Regions from separate parts of the Homo sapiens genome. Here region 2 is linked to region 1. Evidence: fine-mapped expression QTL. Tissue or cell type: whole blood. Region 1 holds a variant in brackets; the other region holds the start of a gene. All regions are shown on one strand. Distances are from middle to middle.

Region 1 (10,265 bases):
GCAACTTTCTCTTCAGGTGTCAGCCCTGGTTCCTGTCCCTAAACCACCTTCCCCACAGCTGAGGCACAGCCACCAGCACTAATCTATGTGGTCCTCTTTCGGAGGGGATCTAGGTGTTTCAGGGCAATGCTTAGAAAAAAGCACCGGCCTCCCTGAATTCATTCCCTTATGACCCTTTCTTCACTTCCGGGAACCAGGCCTCAGCCTCCACTCCGAAGCTCCCCTCGTCTTATCTGCAATGCTTGCTCTCCTGACCCAGTAACCTGTTGGGTGATTGAGAGGCTGCTAGGAGGACTGGACTAGCCGTGATCTTACCTCCTGACCCCCAGGGCTGGCACCTCGTTCCTTGGTCCTGACCTACGAAAGGCTCTCCTCCTGCTGGCTAAATTTCCTGGGTCCCTGCCTGCTGCCTGGATCTCCCCATAATATTCTATTCTCAATTTCCCATGCTACCACCCCAATCCACTTACCCTTTAAGGCACTGTGAGTAATTTACCATGTCACTTTGCCCTTTTCTCCAGGAAGCCATTCCTAACTTTGCACACATTCTCATAACCCTGAATTTCCCCCACAACGGCCCTTTTCATGCTTCATTGTAATTTACCGTAAGGCCCCTGATGGCAGGAACAGCCCTTTTTCTCCAGTGGATCCTCAGCACCAAGAATAGTACCTGGAGCTTGTGGGCATCTATAAACATTGATTAAATGAGCGAGTGAGCTGGGTGCAGTGGCTCACGCCTGCAATCCCAGCACTTTGGGAGGTCGAGGCAGGTGGATCACCTGAGGTCAGGAGTTCGAGATCAGCCTGGCCAACAAGGTGAAACCCAGTCTCTACTAAAAATAAAAAAGAAAATAAAAAAATTAGCAAGGTGTGGTGGCAGGCACCTGTAATCCTAGCTACTCGGGAGGCTGAGGCAGGAGAATCACTTGAATCTAAGAGGCAGAGGGTGCAGTGAGCCAACGTCGCAGCATTGCACTCCAGCCTGGGCAACAAGAGCGAAACTCCATCTCAAAAAAAAAAAAAATGAGTGAATGGATGAGTGAATGAATGGGCAAGCTAGGTAACTCAGTCTAAATCATTGTGGTAGTGAGCATCCACGATGGCCCCAGTGATCCCTGCTTCCTGGTATTCACATCTGTGTAGTTCCCTCCATGCTGTTCTAGAATTGGTCTCTATGACCAACAGATTACAGCAGAAGTGATGATACATCACTTCTGAAATTAGGCTATAAAAGGCACTACCAGCTTGCATCCTGATTGCTCTCTCAGTCTTTCTTAGGTCATTTGCTCTGGGGGAGGTCAGCTGATATAGAGATGCCCATATGGCAAGAAACTGAGGCTCCCAACCAGCAGCCAGCAAGGATCTGATGCCTGCCAACAGTACAGTAAGTGTGAGCTTGAATCTCATAATGAACTTTGAGATTACTGCAGCCCCAGCCAAGAGCTTTACTGCAACTTCATAAGAGACCCTGAGCCAGAAGCACCCAGCTAAACCACTCCTACATTCTGACACTCAGAGCCTGTTAGATAGTAAGTGTTTGTTATTTTAAAGTTTTCAGTTTGGGGGTAATTTGTTATGCAGCAATTGAGAACTAACACAATCATCTAGCTGATGGGCTTGGCTAGGGTAATGAGACCTGTCTTATAATTCAGCACCACGGAGCTGCCGAGTGGTGGCATCATTACCACATTGTAAGTTCAGCTACATTTGGCAAAATACTAACCCCAAAGCCATGACAAATGTCAATCTGAAGTCTGAGACGTGCCACTTTGTTGCAGACATATGGAAGTGTTTGCCAATGAATTGCATGCAACAATCAGGCATAACCAGTTTATTTTCAGATTGTTAAAAACAGAGCAGATAATTGCACCTTAATGACTGCTCACTGTCCACAGATCTTATACTAGGGGACAGAGTGAGCATATTGTTTCAGCAAAGCTGTCCTTGGGCTGGAGCCTCTGCTCCCCTTTCCCCACATCACACATGTCAGAGTAATGTTTGGTATAGATCAGGTTCATGTCTGAAAACTTAAGAGGCAGTTAAATGAAGAGGCAAATTTCCTCTGTCCCCAAAGTTCTCTTTCAATGAAGGTTCCAGCTACCATTCCCAAATCAAATGGAGACTGACATTTGCTTTTGGTGTGTTCTAAAATTTCCTGTTGTTAACACCAGTTTAGAGGATGGGCAAGGTTAGAAGAGAAAGATGGGCTGGGCACGGTGGCTCACACCTGTAATCCCAGCACTTTGGGAGGTCGAGGCAGGCAGATCACCTGAGGTTGGGAGTTTGAGACCAGCCTGACCAACATGGAGGAACCCCGTCTCTATTAAAAATACAAACTTAGCCAGGGGTGGTGGCACATGCCTGTAATCCCATCTACTCAGGAGGCTGAGGCAGGAGAATCTCTTGAACCTGGGAGGCAGAGGTTGCAGTGAGCCGAGATCGCACCATTGCACTCCAGCCTGGGCAACAAGAACAAAAGTCTGTCTGAAGAAAAAACAAAACAAAATAAAACAAAAATGGGAAAGATGATGATAGGACAAGAGGGTTAAAGTTTGGTAAATGAAGGGTACGGGGAGAAATGTGTTCACAGAGTAGCCTCCAGGCTCACACTACTGTCATCAGGAGTCAACCCAAGACCATTCCAGCAGGGAGCAGACTGACTCAGGGAATCAACTGGCAATGAGACCCCAATTAGGAGGTCATGGTGGCTGGTTGGTTGGTTCAGTTGTCCAAACTATAAAATGAAGATGAGAAAGTGCCTTGAGAAGGATTTGGGAAAATAAGGCCACAAAAACCTGAGACACAGTGAAAAGACTGGTTTTAACCCCAGAGAAGGAAAATGATTGATTGTGAGAGATGGAGCAACAATAAACGAACCAAGTGGCAATGGCAACAGCTTCCATTTGTGGGGCACTTAGCTTGTACCAGACACTGTGCTAAGCGTTCCATTCATTACTTAACTCTCAAGACAGTTCTATCAGTTGGTAGGTATTATTACCCCCATGTTACAGATCAGAACTGAGCCTTAGCATAGCTAAGTAACTGCCTGAGATTACACTGTAAATAAATTGTGGAGTCAAGATTAACACCCAGATCTCTGCCTGACTCCAAGCCCAGGTTCTCACCACTGAAGAATTTTCCAGATGTCAGAATTCTCTCTCCTCCTAAATCTAAAGCTTATAATGTCTGACTCTGCCCCCAGCACCTCGGAAATACAAAAGGCAATAAAAATATTTCATTGCAGCAATTTTGCAGAAGACAGGGTAGGGACCTTTTATATCAGAGAAAATCTTTATCATCTGCATTTCAAGGACTTAGAAAATAGGAAGCAGAAACAAAAATAGCAAAAATATTGGAAGTATAGTTGATCAAGGCACAGTATATGTTTAAATTGTTTTAAAGTGCTATTTATTTTAACTTTTAGGTTCAGCATGTGCAGATTTGTTATATAGGTAAATTGTGTGTTGTGGGGGTTTGGTGTACAGATTATTTCATCATCCGTATGATGAAATCATACATAAGCATAGTACCTGATAGGTAGTTTTTCAGTCCTCACCTTCTTCTCATCCTCTACCCTCAAGTAGGCCCTGGTATCTTTTGTTCCCTTCTTTGTGTTCATGTGTACTCAATGTTTAGCTCTCACTTATAAGTGAAAACATGCATTATTTGGTTTTCTGTTCCTGTGTCAGTTCACTTAGGATAATGGCCTCCAGCTCCATCCATGTTGCTGCAAAAAACATGATTGCATTCTTTTCTATGGCTGTGTAGTATTCCATGGGAGACACTGAATAAATGCTGAACTGAGGGCAGTTACGGAGACTGAAACCTGTCTGCAATTATATGCAGGCTGTCTGCTAGACATCCAGCATAGAATAGGACCTATGTGGTTTCCTAGGCTCCCCCCATCAATCCACTCATCACCCTTCATTTGTTAAATGTCCCATCTTCTCTGACACACAGACTGTTTAGCAGTACCTGGGTAAGACACAGACTGTTTTTGCAGTACCTGGTGCCATATCTGGCAAGGAATTGGTGTTCAGGATTTATTTGCAAAAAATGAAGGCATAGCGTGCTTAAATACATGGGATGCTGTTTAAGTAGTTTTTAGGGGGAAATTTATAGCATGAAAGCCAATATTAGAAAGAAAGTCTCAAATCAGTGGCCTCCACTTCCACCTTAAGAAACTACAGAAATAAGTGCAAATTAAACCCAAACTAAGCAGAAAGAAAGAAAATAATGATCAGAGTGGAAATAGGTGAAATAGAAAACAGAAAAACAATAGAGAAAATCAAATGAAACTAGACATTAGTTATTTGAGAAAAATCAATAAAATTGATAAGCCTCTAACCAGATTGATCAGGAAAAAAAAAAAGGGCAGACACAAATTACCAATATCTGGAATGAGAGATGTGACAACACTATAGATTCTGCAGGTATTAACAAGATAATAAAGGAATGCTGTGAACAACTTTATGCCAATAAATTCAGCAACTTATATTAAATGAAAAAATTCTTTGAGACACAAACTATCAAAATTCATTCTAGAAGAAACAGAGATCCTAAATAGTCCTATATCTATTAAAGAGATATACATTATAGTTTAAAAACTTTCCACAAAGAAAACACCAGGCTCTGGTAAATTCTACTAAACATTTAAGGGTATGTTTGCAGAGTGAATGAATGAACAGTGGATCTAAGGACAACAAAAAAACTAGAAAAGAACACACAGAAAAAGGGAGAAACTCTAAAAGAACCTCAGACAGACAATTCCTGGGCCACGTTTGGCTAAGGCTTCTACCAATGGCCTAATGAAGAAAGCCTGGTAGCTAATCCCAGAACCACTGCATAGTGAGATATATGTATGGGTGTTCATGTGTACAAACTGTTAACAAACTGTCCCTATATCATTACTTCCTCTCCACTAAATTTGTTCTTGTCTTTATAAAGTTCTGAAGAAAAATCTTCTTCAGGAATTGTTAAGGAGAACCAGGTAGATCCAAATGACATGTTTATTCACCGTTC[G/A]TAGTACCCATTTAATCATTCAACAAGCATTTACTAATTACTCATTCACTATATAGCAGTCTCAGGACTCTCTTCTAAGATCTAGAGATGTAAAGTGCAATAAGACATATTTCCTACTATAACAAGCTCCCAGTCTAGAGATATTTACATATAATAAATTCAAATCATTGCCATGCAGCAGTTGGTGCTGTGATGGAGCAATGCACCAAGTGCTATGAGAACACGGAGAGTGGCTGGGTGTGGTGGCTCACACCTGTAACCCTAGCACTTTGGGAGGCTGAGATGAGAAGATCACTTAAGCTCAGGAGTTCAAGACCAGCCTGGGCAACATAGTGAGACCTTGTCTCTACAAAATATTTAAAAATTAGCCGGGTGTGGTAGCACATGCCTGTACTCCCAGCTACTTGGATGGCTGAGGTGGGAGGATCACTTAAGCCTGGGAGGTCGAGGCTGCAGTGAGCTATGATTGCACCACTGTACTCCAGCCTGGGCAACAGAGCAAGACCTCCTCTCAAAAATAAATAAATAAATAAATAAATAAATAAATAAATAAATAAATAAAAGGAGAAGTCTCTGGAGAAAGTGATGCTTGGACTGAGTTTTGAAGTAGGAGTAGAAGTCAGCTAGATGAAGAAGAGAAAAGCATTTGAACAACATTCAGATTGACCTGGAGGCAGAAAAAGCACATCCACTTTGGGGAACCACAAGCTGTGCATTAGGACTAGAGCAGAAGTGGGAGGTTGGAGAGGACACTAGAGAAGCAGGCAGGAGATTAATGATGCAAGACCAGGCTCTGGGAACGTAGGCAGGAAGTATGGGCTTTATTCTGAAAGTGATGGGGAGCCAATGAAGAAGGCAAGCCCAGGAGCAAGATGATCAGACTTGAGTTTCAGATCTTTCAGCTGGTGAATAAATTGGAGGGAGGCCAGACTTGGGGGAGGAAGATGAGTTTTGAGAAATTTCCAGAAATTCAGATGGTGAGAGTCTAAATCAAAGTGATGTCAGAGTATATACAAGAGACACAAGATTTCACCAGAGTGGGCAAGGAAGAGCAGCACCCCCATGGAATAGTGACTAGACAGGGCACGTTCTTGTTTTTTTTGTTTTTTGTTTGTTTTGTTTTGCTTTGCTTTTTGAGACAGAGTCTCCCTCTGTTGCCCAGGCTGGAGTGCAGTGGCGTGATCTCGGCTCACTACAACCTCTGCCTCCCGGGTTCAAGTGATCTTCCTGCCTCAGCCTCCCGAGTAGCTGAGACTACAGGTGCATGCCACCATGCCCACCTAATTTTTTTGTATTTTTAAGTAGAGACAGGGTTTCACCATGTTGGCCAGGATGGTCTGGATCTCTTGACCTCGTGATCCACCCGCCCTGGGCCTCCCAAACTGCTGGGATTACAGGTGTGAGCCACCAGGCCCGGCCCAGGGCACATTCTTGTTTGTGCGTGCAGTGTGACCCCCAACCTCCCACCCTTCCACAACTGGGAAGAGGAAGCACGGGCCAGGCATGGTGCTGGGTGATTTCTACATCTCACCTAACGCGCTCAGTAACTGTCTGAACACGTGGGATCGGCCTCATAGATCAGGAATCAGGGCTTCTGGAACTGACCGACTCAGCAATGAACAGGGCAGTGTTTTCTCCTTAATGCCCTAAGGATTTTTGAATCCGCTTTGCTTGCATCTCTGTGAGCCCCTAGCTAACTCCTTACTTCGCTGGTTAAATATAGCACCTCTTATCTTCTACTCACCTCATTGCCAGAAAGGTGGTACATCCTGGCTTCCTGGAGCAGCGGGAAGACCTCTGGGCACTGCCTGATGAGAGGATCTGCTTCCACCGTCTCCACAAAGTACCACGGGTCCAGAAGCGGTAAGCGCACGTTCTCGAGGACATAGGGGAGTAAGCAGAGTCGTTCTGATGGCTTGTGCCGGACCCAGCTCATCACGGTCTCAAACACCTGAGCCTCCTCGGTCACGTAAAGGTCATCACTCTTCAAGATGTGGTGCAGAGTGTCCACGGGCAGGTCAAGAAACTCCTCAGAGTTCAGAATCTGCACAAAGTTTTGAATGATGTAACTCTGAACCTGCTTCTTTAGACTGTCCAGCGAGTGTGTGTCAGCCAGCCTCAGTATTCCAACGCAGTTTTCTGGGTTCAAGGCTTCAGTGAGGAAGCTGGCACAGGCATCCACCATCCGCAGGAACTGATGAAATAGAAAGGGTGGAAAGGAGGCCAGAAAATGGTGAGTCCACAAGGAGGTTTATCAGTGAGTTATGTGTATTAGCCAAAAATTGGAAACAACCTAAATGTCCAACAGTACAGGATGAGCTAAATACATATAATTCATTCATACAGTAGACTTAAAACAATGAGATACTTACTGGACGAGCTAAATACATATAATTCATTCATACAGTCGACAAAACAATGAGATACTTACGGGAGGAGCTAAATACATATAATTCATTCATACAGTCGACTTAAAACAATGAGACACTTACGGGACTAGCTAAATACATATAATTCATTCATACAGTCGATAGCTCTGTAGATACTTAAAACACATGTTGTAGAAAATATTAAATGAAATAGAAAATGTTCATAATGTATTGAGTTTTAAAATCTGTTCATTGGATCTGATTAAGCCTCTACATTTACTCAGCAATTTACAGGAAATACAGGGAAAGAGGAACCTGCTAAAGACGTCATGGGAACATGATCAGCAAAATCCAGATTGTGGAAAACTCTACTGAACAACTTGTTCAGTTTCTTCAACAAATACATTACAAGGGGATAAAAGAGAGAGAGAAGGAGAGGGAGAACCTAAAGATAAACAGAGATTTAAGACACATTGACCAATTGCAAAGTATGGATCTTATTTGGATTCCTGATTTAAACAATATATATTTTTTAAAGTTGGAGAAATGTTTACAATGACTAATATTTGGTGCTAATGAAACAATTATGATTCATTTTAGGTGCCATAATGGTTTCATGTTTATGTTGAAGAAGAATCCTTATTTTTTAGAGCTATAAGTGAAATATTTGCAGATAAAATGAGAAAAGCACGTCACAAATCATATGTACATTGTGACCTTATTTTTATAAAGAAAACATACACAGAATAAAGTCATAGAAAGAAGATGAAAGGATGTAGGTCAAAATATTAATGGTTGTTATCTCTTTGGGTTATCAGGTATCTTAAGGCAAATTCTGCTGCAGCAGCAAACAACCCTCACGTCTCAGGGGCTTACAATAAATGTTCCTCTTACCCACTATGTGTTCTTCACGGGGCTCTTCATTCCAGGGGCCAGGAAGATGGAAAGCCCTTACCTGAGACATGCTGGTCCCATGACAGAAGGGGAAAAAGATGGCAGAACCACACAGAGGCTTTTAAAGCTTCTGCTCAGAGGGGGCGCATGCTATATCCATTTACACAAAACCGTCCAGAGTAAGTCACATGGCAAAATTTGTCATCAAGGGAACCATAGTTCTCCCACAGAAACAGGTCTCATGGGATGGACAGGGAATATACTATATAAATAATAGAAGGTATGACACTCTAAGAAGACTATGAGAATTTTTCTGTTTTTGTTTATTTATATGTTTTATTTATTTATATATCCTTTAAAATGAATACGTACCGCTTTTGTCATTAAAAAATCAATTTGTAAAATTATTGATTGGCTCTCAGGTCCCACTTTTAAGTTATCACCATCCTCATAAAAATTCAAGTCCCTTGTGCTTGTAGGGCACTTTACAGATGACAAAGCACTGTTATATCCATTATATTTTGTAATATCCATTTTACAGATGACATGTCTCAAATGCATTGGTTCATTCTTATTTGTTGTTCTCTGGAGCTTAGCTTTGAACAATTTCAACCTCCTAGCTCCCTTCCCCGTCTACTGGACTCCTTATAGGGTCAAGTTCTTGGTGCCCATGGGTTGATCGATTAATGGGGGGAGAGGAAAGGGGAGGCTGAGGGGGCAAGACCTGGTGGGGGTGGGGGAGGCCTTCTGAAGGCAGGTCCTGGTGAGAGTAGGGACAGGACAGACCTGACTGGGGAGGGTTGGCAGGAGCTGTGGGGAGTGGGGCTATCGAGCCTGAAGGTTGATAGTGGGGCAGGACTGGTTCTAAGAGTGGACCAAGGTGACCTAGGCTCTGGACTTTACTCCAGAGCATTCCAGGGAACACATCCCTGACTTTTTGGATCAACCTCTATTGCAAAATATTATCTTTCTGTGTCAGATCACATAGGATTGTCAGTTTAAAAAGCATTTTTTAGGCCGGGCGCGGTGGCTCACGCCTGTAATCCCAGCACTTTGGGAGGCCGAGGCATGCAGATCACCTGAGATCAGGAGTTGGAGACCAGCCTGACCAACATGGAGATACCCCGTCTCTACTAAAAATACAAAATTAGTCAGGCGTGGTGGCACATGCCTGTAATCCCAGCTACTCAGGAGGCTGCAGCAGGAGAATGCTTGAACCTGGGAGGCGGAGGTTGCGGTTAGCTGATATCGTGTCATTGCACTCTAGCCCGGGCAACAAGAGCAAAACTCCATCTCAAAATAAATAAATAAATAAATAAATAAAGCATTTCTCCGAGGGTCAATGCTGAAGGGGGCCAGCCCCTCTACACCTGTGGGTATTTCTCGTCAGGTGGGACGAGAGACTGAGAAAAGAAATAAGACACAGAGGCAAAGTACAGAGAAAGAACAGTGGGCCCAGGGGACCAGCGCTCAGCATACGGAGGACCCTCACCGGCACCAGTCTCTGAGTTCCCTCAGTATTTATTGATTACTATTTTCACTATCTCAATAAGAGGAATGCAGTAGGAGAGCAGGGTGATAGTGGGGAGAAGGTCAGCAAGAAAACATGTGAGCAAAGGAATCTGTGTCACAAATAAGTTCAAGGGGAGGTACTATGCCTGGACGTGCACGTAGGCCAGATTTTTGCTTCTCTCCACCCAAACATCTCAGTGGAATAAAGAATAATAAAGCAGCATTGCTGCCAACATGTCTCGCCTCCCGCCACAGGGCGGTTTTTCTCCTATCTCAGAACTGAACAAATGTACAATCGGGTTTTATACTGAGACATTCAGTTCCCAGGGGCAGGCAGGAGACAGTGGCCTTCCTCTATCTCAACTGCAAGGGACTTTCCTCTTTTACTAATCCTCCTCAGCACAGACCCTTCACGGGTGTCGGGCTGGGGGATGGTCAGGTCTTTCCCATCCCACGAGGCCATATTTC
Region 2 (10,265 bases), 50 kb after region 1:
TGGGCGACAGAGCAAGACTCTGTCTCAGAAAAAAAAAAAAAAAAAAATTACTTCCCATGCACTCTTTCTTAGGAAGTTATTGGAGAATGTGCTTATCAGGGTAAGATGGTAAACCAGGGAAGAGAAAGATAGGGGTTGAAGGGAGAAGGCTCCATTCAACATAGCAGACAGTCCCGGGGAATGATGGAGAAGCAGGTGAATCCCAGCCAGCGTGCAAATCCAGGGAACATGTGTAACATGATGCAAGGCAGGAGGATTCTGAGGAAATGGAACTGGTAGATTGTTTGATGCATTGGACCATATGAAAGATTTTTGTGAGCCTGTGAGCAAAAGACACCCCAAAACAAAGCAAATGAAAAAATGAGTGAATTAATAACTTCAGGAAAGACAAAAGGTTTACAAGAAAAGAAACGTGATCATTGAGTAATTTGGCTCAACAGAGAACAAGGTTTTCGTGAACATAATAATGTAAACTCTTGTTGTGATAACATTATGTTGAAAGATTACAGGGAAGGAAAGCTTATGGTAAGAGGTTAGGTAAGGATACTAAATCCTTATTTGAAATCAGTGAATGATGTCTAACACTGAAAAATCAAGAAAGAGCAGTATAAGTGTATTTTGCAGAAATATAGAGCTAGTGCCAGAAGAAACAAATAGAAGTTGAAAGTGGTAGCCTTTGGCGCATGAGACAGGGTGGAGGAGGAAATAGGAATTTTTGTTTTTTCATTATAAGCCTTTAAATACTATTTAACGCTTTGTTTACTATTTGCATATCTTTAATAAAAAATAAAATTTAATTTTAAAAAAATACATGAAAAACAGAAAGGCAGTGAAGAGACAGTTCAACAAAAAAAGAACTGCAGATGCCCCTTAAACATACGAAGAGATGTTTGATCTTACTAAAAATAAGAAAAATGCAAATTAAAGCTAAATTGAGATATTCTTTCTCATTTATCAGATTGGTAAAACTTCAGCGGTTGGATGACACCCTCTTTTGGTGATGCCGTGGGGGAACGCAACATGATTCAACCCCAATGAAAGAGAAGTTGCAATAACCGCTAAGACTGCAGATGCATTTGACTCAGCAAACCCCCTTCAAGAAATGCATATGAAAAAAACTCATGTTTCAGGTTATTCATTACAACATTGTTTGTAATAGCAAAATGTGGATTAGAAATAGTCCAGATGTCTGTCCGTAGGGGACTGTTTAATAAACTATTGTCAGTCCCTTAGTGGAAAGTAATTATTTTCTCAGTGAATAAAGGAAAAAAATGACATAATTTTATAACCAGCTTCCAGGCCCTCCAAAACACAGAGAGCTGTGTTGAAAGCCTCACAGACTGGTCGGGCGCGGTGGCTCACGCCTGTAATCCCAGCACTTTGGGAGGCCGAGGCGGGTGGATCTCGAGGTCAGGAGATGGAGACCATCCTGGCTAACACAGTGAAACCCCGTCTCTACTAAAAATACAAAAAATTAGCCGGGCGTGGTGGCAGGTGCCTGTAGTCCCAGCTACTCAGGGGGCTGAGGCAGGAGAATGGCCTGAACCCTGGAGGCGGAGTTTGCAGTGAGCAGAGATTGTGCCACTGCACTCCAGCCTGGGCGACAGAGCGAGACTCCGTCTCAAAAAAAAAAAAAAAAAAAAAAAAAGAAAGCCTCTCAGACAGAGAGACTCTTTGACCTCCCTAAACCTGAGCATACGAAGAACCCCTTTCAAAACCTCAGACACAAAGCGAGAGAGTGTGTCAGATTTAACGTCAGTCCTAGGTCTAAATCCCAGCTTGGCTACTTTTTATTTGCTGTGACACTCTGGACTTTGGCTCACCGTCGGTAGGCTGGGGATAGGACTCCCTGCCTTGTCAGGTTGTTGTGAGGGTGGAGTGGACTAGAGTATGTGATACAGAAGCTACAGGGCCTGGCCCACAGTAAGCGCTCCACAAACAGGAGTTGATAGGAATAGTAGCACCGGAAGAAAGAATCCTGTCTCCAGGACAGTATTCATTGTAGAAGGAAAGTCACGTTGAAAATCCCAAGAGAAGAAGCAAAAGTCACTTCTCTGAAGAGAAGAATTGAAGGAATTTCCTCTCATGACCAGGCAGTTTTGGGAGAGGCTCTGTATACACAGTCAGATGCCTTCACCCTCATGTTCTCCAGCTTCTCATTGCCGTTGCCTCCTCTGACGACCGGCAGAGACTTTCCCTAAGTATCCTGGATCAGCAGGGCTGGAAGGACCCAAGCCCAAATTCCCATTTAGGATGAGAAACCCAAGAACCAGAGAAGACCAGTGATCAACTCGAGGGCACACAGCCAGCGGGCCTGGTCCACAGCCAGGCCAACCCGCTAACAAAACTGCTTCCAGGTATGCATTTTATGATAGCAAGGGATACAAAAGGATCAACCTAAATGTGCGTCCCCAGGGCATTGAGCTAACTTGACTTCACTCACTCCTGAGAGGGGCTGCAGTCAACGTGAAAGCACGTGATCAAGGTTGGTGGAGAAAGTAATGTGTTTATATCAACCCATTTTGATGGCTGTGTTTACACTTTATATTTTACACACTTCCCATGGAATGAAGTCCCAGACCTAGTGGCAGCTTGCATTGCAGTAACAAGGATTTCCAGAACATACCCAGTCCCTGCTCCAGCAATGACCAGATATATAATGCTGAGTTTTCATTTCCTCATCTGTGAAATATCAGCCACCTTCATCATGCTGTTACAAAAATAAAATCAGATAACTATGTCTGTCTGGCACACAGCAGCCACTGCTTCCCTCAAACCCAGATATCCCCTTGTCTTATCAACACAGGAGACCTAATGAGTCCCACAGCAACCTGCTGATCCTGCTCTATGAATTACAAAGAAACGTTTCCCCCCAAGCACCTCAAAAAAAAAAAAAAGAAAGAAAGAAAACGCTTTCCATAATACTTTCATAGGTTAATCGTTTTCAATTTCCTCAGCCAGAATCAAGAGTTAAGAAGAATCTCATTAAGAAGAATTCTAAGGGTATTTCTTTTCAAGTTCCCAAATACTTTCTTCATTATCCACATTGCCCTTGCAGGCTGGTTCCCCCATGTCCATGCTGATATGGAGAACACTGGATCAGGTGTATTCACTGGGTTCCCAGCGCTATAAAATTCCTACCCCAGGGACGTGCTCATGGGAAACACTCAATAAGTCATCCTTAGCTGAATCAAGCAGAATCAGAAAAAGAATTCCAAGAAAGATATATTGAGCATCTACTTACTATATGCTAGACACTGTGTAGGACCCTTTTCACGCTCTTGTTTAATTATGACAGCCCTGAAAGGTGATCATCATTGTGCTCACCTTACAGATGATGAAACAGACATTCAGAGCACTTTGTGACTTGCCTAAAGTTTCACTGTCAAGAAGGAACCAAGTCTCCTGACTTCAGGCCTTCCCACTATGAGATCACCAGTTTATCGTAACTAGAGGCCTCTCCCATCTAAAGCATCTTTGTAACTGCTTTCCCTTTCCCCACACTGCCTACACATAAAGAAGCCCCTAATTTGTAACAAGTCATTTGACAACTCCAGAAGAGGGGCCACATCCTTTTTCTCTATGTCTGTTGATTAACAAAGACAACATTATGTTTCCAACACCAGTCAGACCAAGGGGGAAAAAAGTCCCCATGACTTCAGTAATTTTCCATCCTTTGGAACAAGGAAATATACACAAAAGGTTTACTATAGAATGTAAGCATTGCTTTTAAATGATGCCAATCTCTCTTTTAATGTGGCCTAAATCCTAAAATTTAAAGTGTGATAAGCCGGGCGCAGCGTCTCACACCTGTAATGCCAGCACTTTGGGAGGCGGAGGCGGGTGGATCACCTGAGGTCGGGAGTTCAAGACCAACCTGACCAACATGGAGAAACCCCATCTCTATTGAAAATACAAAATTATCCGGGTGTTGTGGTGCATGCCTGCAAATCCCAGCTACTCGGGAGGCTGAGGCAGGAGAATCGCTTGAACCCAGGAGGCAGAGGTTGCGGTGAACCGAGATTGCGCCATTGCACTCCAGCCTGGGCAACAAAAGCAAAACTCCGTCTCAAAAATAAATAAATAAATAAATAATAAAATAAAGTGTGATAGTGTCCTTTCTTATATTTTAAGTAGACACACAAGCCTTAATATATATGTAAACCATAAATATCATGGCCAACTGTTCAAGATTGGGCTCTCACACTAACACACCTCTTCCTTGCAACTTGCACCCAATTTGACTCTGGTCCTAGGCATGCTGACCTGAAATAGTTGCTGGCTGCGGCAAGCACCACGCGGTGGCAGGAGAATTCCTGAATGTCCACACACAAGATGACATCTGTCAGAGCGTTTTCCATTCGCAGGGTTTCCAGGCCATTCTGAAGAATTAAGGAGAGTCCCGCGTCGTCAAATTTGACCTTTTCCCCATTTAAGATCTCGACCAAGTCTCCTGTTTTCTGGGAGGGCTCATCTGTAGAAGGTGCCAGGGGCCCTTCCAAACTCTTCTCGACCACATCACCCATGGTCCAGGCGCCCCTTTGTCCTGCCATCAACATCGAGACTGAAGGAGCGCCCAAGTGTCAGGCAGGCCCCATTGCAGGAGCTGAGCGGATTTCCTGTGCAGGGCCCTCCACTTATCACCAGCTGTCACACACACATAACAGGAAGTCTCGCACTTTCTCATCCTGTTACTACAAATGCCAGCAACTTCTATTCTTCTTCTTTCTGTGAGTAATCACAGGGTTAGAAATTACTTAGAATAGGTGTGTGGGAGGGGGTTCTGGAAGAGGAGTGTCCTCTCAGAGTCCACTGTGAGTGCTGTGTGTTTATTTTGGTGCATCTCCCACCTCATATCCGTGAGCAGGAAGCCTCCGGTGGTGGCTGTTACATTTGTACTCCTAATGCTATCAATAACCCAAGTCGTCAATGAGGGGATGGACAGGAGACAGTCTATAATCCTCCTGCTTCACATTTGTACTCCTAGTGGCTCAATAACCCAAGTCGTCAGCGAGGGGATGGACAGGAGACAGTCTATGATCCTCCCACTTCCTCCTCCCAGGAGTCTGAGACCCCACAATGATCCAACAACCGTGCTTTGTAAACCATGGAAACCCCACTTATCCCTGACATTCTCATTTCTGGCGGCACTGCAGATCGTCTATCTTCATCCTCCTCCCTACCCAGGGGAAAACAACGTCATGGCAAACTTTCATGTCTTCCCCCACCAAAAAAAATGTCTATTGTTTCGAATATGCTTTGGGGGCACAGAAGAAATGGTTTCCAAAACTCCATCAACAGCATCTTCTCAGAGGATGAGTCAGGGTGGGTCTACACCGAATTGCCATAGCACGTCTCAGATTAGCCCAACATCTACTGACCGTGCATCTAACGGTGGATCCTGAAGTATTTTCATTACCTCTGCATGTCTCAGTTAAGTAGTAATAACTGTCATTATTAAAATCCCATGATATCCTGGGGAAGTTATAGGAGCGTATCAGTTAGCGTTCTCTCACGCCCAACAGTAATGCTTTACCAGGTTGCTAGGTATTTCTTAGCCCAGCAAACTTGACATCTAAAATTAACCATTACAATTACAGTCATACCCAGCATAATGATATTTCAGTCGATGATGGACTCCAGAGAGACAGAACCAAAAGGATACCTAGAGAGGCATAGCAGAGGGAAATTATTAGGGGAATTGGCTCACGTGATTATGGAGACTGAGAAGTCGCATGACAGACTGCTGAGAGCTCAGTTCAAGTCCAAAGGCCTCAGAACCAGAGAAGATGGTATAACTCTCAGTCCAAAGCCAAAGGCCTGAGAATCCAGGGGGTGGGGAGACTGGTGTAAGTCCTGAAGTCCAAAGGCAGGGGATCCTGGAGTCCTGTTGTTCAAGGCAGGAGATGACTGTATCCCAGCCTCAGGAGATAGAGACATCGACCTTTCTTCTGTTTTTGTTTTCTCTGGGCCCCTGGCTGATTGGATGGTGCCCACCCACACTGAGAGTGTATCTTCTCTACCGAGTCCACTCAGACTCACTAATCTCTCCTGGAAACAACCTCACAGACACGCCCCATGGTAATGCTTTAACAGGTTGCTAGGTATTTCTTAGCCCAGTAAACTTGACATCTAAAATTAACGGTCACAAGTACAGTCATGCCCAGCACAATGACATTTCAATCGATGATGGACTGAATATACAATTGTGGTCCCAAAAGATTATAATGGAGCATATAAAGAAACCTGACGGCCGGGCGTGGTGGCTCATGCCTGTAATCCCAGCACTTTGGGAGACCAAGGCAGGGGGATCACAAGGTCAGGAGCTCAAGACCAGCCTGAGCAACATGGTGAAACCCCCATCTCTACTAAAAATACAAAAATTAGCCAGTCGCGGTGGCGTACACCTGTAATCCCAGCTACTTGGGAGGCTGAGGAAGGAGAATCGCTTGAACCCGGGAGGTGGAGGTTGCAGTGAGCTGAGATTGTGCCATTGCACTCCAGCCTGGGCAATAAGAGCGAAACTCTGCCTCAAAAAAAAAAAAAAAGTCATGGAAAAATAATGCCATTCACAATGGTAATAAAACATATGTAAATGCCTAGCAATAACAGCAACCAGCAACATAAAGAAAACTAACAAACTTTACTAAGAGTTTCGAAAGAAAACTTAAATAAATATACCAAGTTCCTTTATGGAAAGACTAAATATTATTAAAAGGACCAATTCTTTCCGAATACATTTATAGGTTTATTTTACTCTAATAAAAATTACAAGAAAATTTGGAGTTTAGGTTTGTTTGTTTGTTTGTTTTTGAGACGGAGTCTTACTCTGTTGCCCAGGCTAGAGTACAGTGGTGCGATCTCAGCTCACTGCGACCTCCGCTTCCCAGGTTCAAGCGATTCTCCTGCCTCAGCCTCCCAAGTAGCTGGGACTACACGCATGCACCACCACACCTGGCTAATTTTTTGTATCTTTAGTGGAGACAGGGTTTTGCCATGTTGGCCAGGCTGGTCTTGAACTGCTGGGCTCAAGCGATCCACCCGTCTCGGCCTCCCAAAGTGCTGGGACTACAGGCTCACACCACCGCACCTGCCCCAAGTTTAGGTTAAATGTAAATGAACAGTATCAAGATAGGTTCAAAGCACAGTGGGACTATCTGTAAAAGGATAAACATTAAGTCTAGACTTTACAGTGGACCCAAAGTCTTTTCTCCCTGGAAACTACAAAATTGAGATAGATGTGGAATGTTGTATTCAGAAGCCCCGTATCTGAGTTGGAAATTGAGACTGCTTCCCAGTGTCAAAGTGATTTAGATCTTCCAGACAACTATGAGATCTCATTCTTACTGACACAATGGCAAACAACAAAGTTTCTGATGGTCTGTGATTTTTAGAAAACAATTTTTCTCAGTAAGAATAAGTAGTCACCCACGAAGGGTATCCTTATGACACATTTATAATTGCAAGGAGTCACTTAAGGAAACGTTATTTCTTTTTAACGTTTCATCTGTGTCTGACTTCCTAGCCTGATGAATGGGAGGGCAGATTTTTTACTTTCCGATCTGACCTAATCTTTGAAGAAACGTTGTTTCTTTTTAATGTTTCATCTGTGTCTGACTTCCTAGCCTGATGAATGGGAGGGCAAATTTTTACTTTCTGATCTGACCTAATCTTTCCTTTCTCGCCCTTTTTAAGATTAATAGTCATGAATTTAAATTGAGACCTGGCAGGCGGCCAAGGTCAGCTTCCAAAAGTTATATGCTTGGGCCAGGTGTGGTGGCTCACGCCTGTAATCCCAGCACTTTGGGAGGCCAATGCAAGAAAATTGCTTGAGCCAAGAAGTTCCAGACCAGCCTGGGCAACATGACAAAACCCCATCTCTACAAAAAATATAAATAAAAAAATTAGTCATATATGGTGGCATGCATCTGTAGTCCCAGCTACTTGGAAGGCTGAGGCGGGAGGATTGCTTGAGCCCAGGAGGTGGAGGCTGCAGTTAGCCATGTTCTCACCACTGCATTCCAGCCTGGGCAACAGAGCGGAGACCTTGTCTCAACAAACAAACAAACAAAACAAAAAAGCAAAAAAAAGTCATATGTTAAGCTGTGTTCAATGGAACTATGGAGGGTCGGCTGGCGACGGTGGCTCACGCCTATAATCCCAGCACTTTGGGAGGCCGAGACGGGCAGATCACGAGGTCAGGAGATCGAGACCATCCTGGCTAACACGGTGAAACCCCATCTCTACTAAAAATACAAAAAATTAGGCGGGTGTAGTGGCGGGCGCCTATAGTCCCAGCTACTTGGGAGGCTGAGGCAGGAGAATGGTGTGAACCCAGGAGGCAGAGCTTGCAGTGAGGCGAGGTCGCGCCACTGTACTCCAGCCTGGGTGACAGAGTGAGACTCCGTCTCAAAAAAAAAAAAAAAAAAAACTATGGAGGGTCCAGTTAGTTAAACTGAATCTGCCCTTAGACTTCAGTGTCAAGGTGAAGCAGAGATGAAGCCAGGTGAATGAAGGAGACTGAGGTAAGACAGGACAGGAGGGTAGGAGGAGAAAGGTGGGAATTCAAGAGGGTCTAAGATTTTTGCATATGTCAGAGCTGGGCTCCAGGACTCCCACTTGGCCCCACTGGTGGCCTCCTGCTTAGCTAAGAGGGCCTCACTGAAAGAGGTAGGGTCAACACAGATTCCATGCCATACCCTATCCCCAGCTTCTGTGACCTTTCTCCTATACATAGATATCAAACCTTACTCCCTAGTCACTCTCTTCTGCTTTATATATTTTAATGCTCTAAATCTCTGTTCAAAGTACGGTGTTGTTATATCCTTGCTATTGATTGTACCTTTTATTAGTATTAAATATCCCTGTTTATCCTGTTAATTTTTTTCTTTAAATAATTTTCTGATTTGTCTGGAGTTTCTATTGCCACTCCTGCTTTCTTTTCATTTACTTTTCCTAATATATCTTTGCCTGTTCTTTGTGTTCTGGGAAATAGACATCTTTTCTTAATGTTTCTGATGGTTGTAATGATGTTTCAACAAATAGTAAGCCAATATTTATCTAATTATCACAGCACAAAGCTTAGAGATAACTTGGATAATCTCCAGGCTTGGATAACTTGGATTATCTCTAGGCTCTGTGCTACAATAACTAGATAAACATTGGTATCCAACTGCTTACTTAACATCTACACTTGAGGGTCTAACATTTGAGGCATCCTCCAACTAAATACATCCCAAGCCAAAACCTGGATGGAACACACCAAACATGTCCCTTCACCGGGCTGTGTTTGGGTAGGGACACGTGAAAGAGATTTGGGGTAGTTGGCAAAGTTCAATTTCTTGACCTTAGTGGTGTTTACAACAGTATTGTGTGCCTTATAATAATTCACTAAGCTATACATTTGTTTGTATCATTTTCCATGTTTTATTTGACAACACAAAGGTAATAACAACCATAACAATAATAGTCAACATGCATTGATGCCAGCACTTTGCTAGTTAGTAGCTGAATGGGACTGCAGTTCCAGACTTCCAGCTCCTGAGCCAGCGCCTGACACCCCACCCCATGCTGAAGGAGCACACTCAGGACTTCACGTCTTCCTGATAAGTGTGAGGCAAATGAAATATCCACCCATGCCTCAGACAAGACCAGCTTTGCCTGCCATCTTGTGGCCTCTTTCTGGTTCCAGTTAATACCTGAGGGCCCAGAAAACAGAGAAGCTGCAGCTTTTACCTCAGGTCAGGGTTCCTCTGAGTATCCTCAGCTCCCAGGTAGAGTGTGCCGGCCTCTCCCAATCGCGGCCTCCCGCAGACGCCGCTGGCCTGGCCTCTTCCTCCGCCTGATTCAAGGGTGCCCAGTGCTCCCAGGCTCCTGCTCATCAAATGCCTGGCCCTGGGCTCCTCAGGCCAACTCCTCTTGCCAACCACATCCCGTCATAATAATAACGAAAGATAGATGCCTTCATCCAAAACAATGACACGGGGTCTGCCTGAATCCCAAACAGGAAGTTGGGAAGTTGCCGGAGGAGAAAGACAAGCCTGATGGAAGTGGTGAGCCCAAATATCAAAATCCAAGAACAAAGCAGAACCCAGAGCCAAGTGTTTTATAATTTCATCCAGAGGGGATTCTTTTTAAAAGAGCGGCATTAAGGCTTTATTTCCTCTTACAAATTCTGCGTACAACACACGCTTTCCATAGCATAATGTTTCTAGTCAACGTAATAAAAGGCTTGTCATATATGAGTTATAATTTTTTAACTTTCT

The links. PIP is the estimated chance that this variant, and not a neighbour inherited with it, causes the effect.
Region 2: it holds the start of KLHL6, and the variant in region 1 is fine-mapped to the expression of KLHL6 in whole blood (TOPMed, PIP 0.94).

Annotation. Positions count from the first base shown.
Region 1 is chr3:183,501,293-183,511,557 of GRCh38, forward strand. It overlaps KLHL6 (kelch like family member 6), which reads right to left. Exons shown (of 7, transcript NM_130446.4): 3 at 6,767-7,216. Among named protein-coding and RNA genes, the nearest start is that of KLHL6-AS1, 42 kb to the right of the region's middle. RefSeq lists an enhancer at 6,536-7,735. The variant G/A (reference allele first, on the strand shown) is at 5,023.
Region 2 is chr3:183,551,095-183,561,359 of GRCh38, forward strand. KLHL6 (kelch like family member 6) reads right to left here and starts at 4,612. Exons shown (of 7, transcript NM_130446.4): 1 at 4,267-4,612. The coding sequence starts at 4,559. KLHL6-AS1 (KLHL6 antisense RNA 1) reads left to right here. Exons shown (of 2, transcript NR_046687.1): 2 at 959-1,232. RefSeq lists silencers at 1,472-1,641, 9,581-9,630.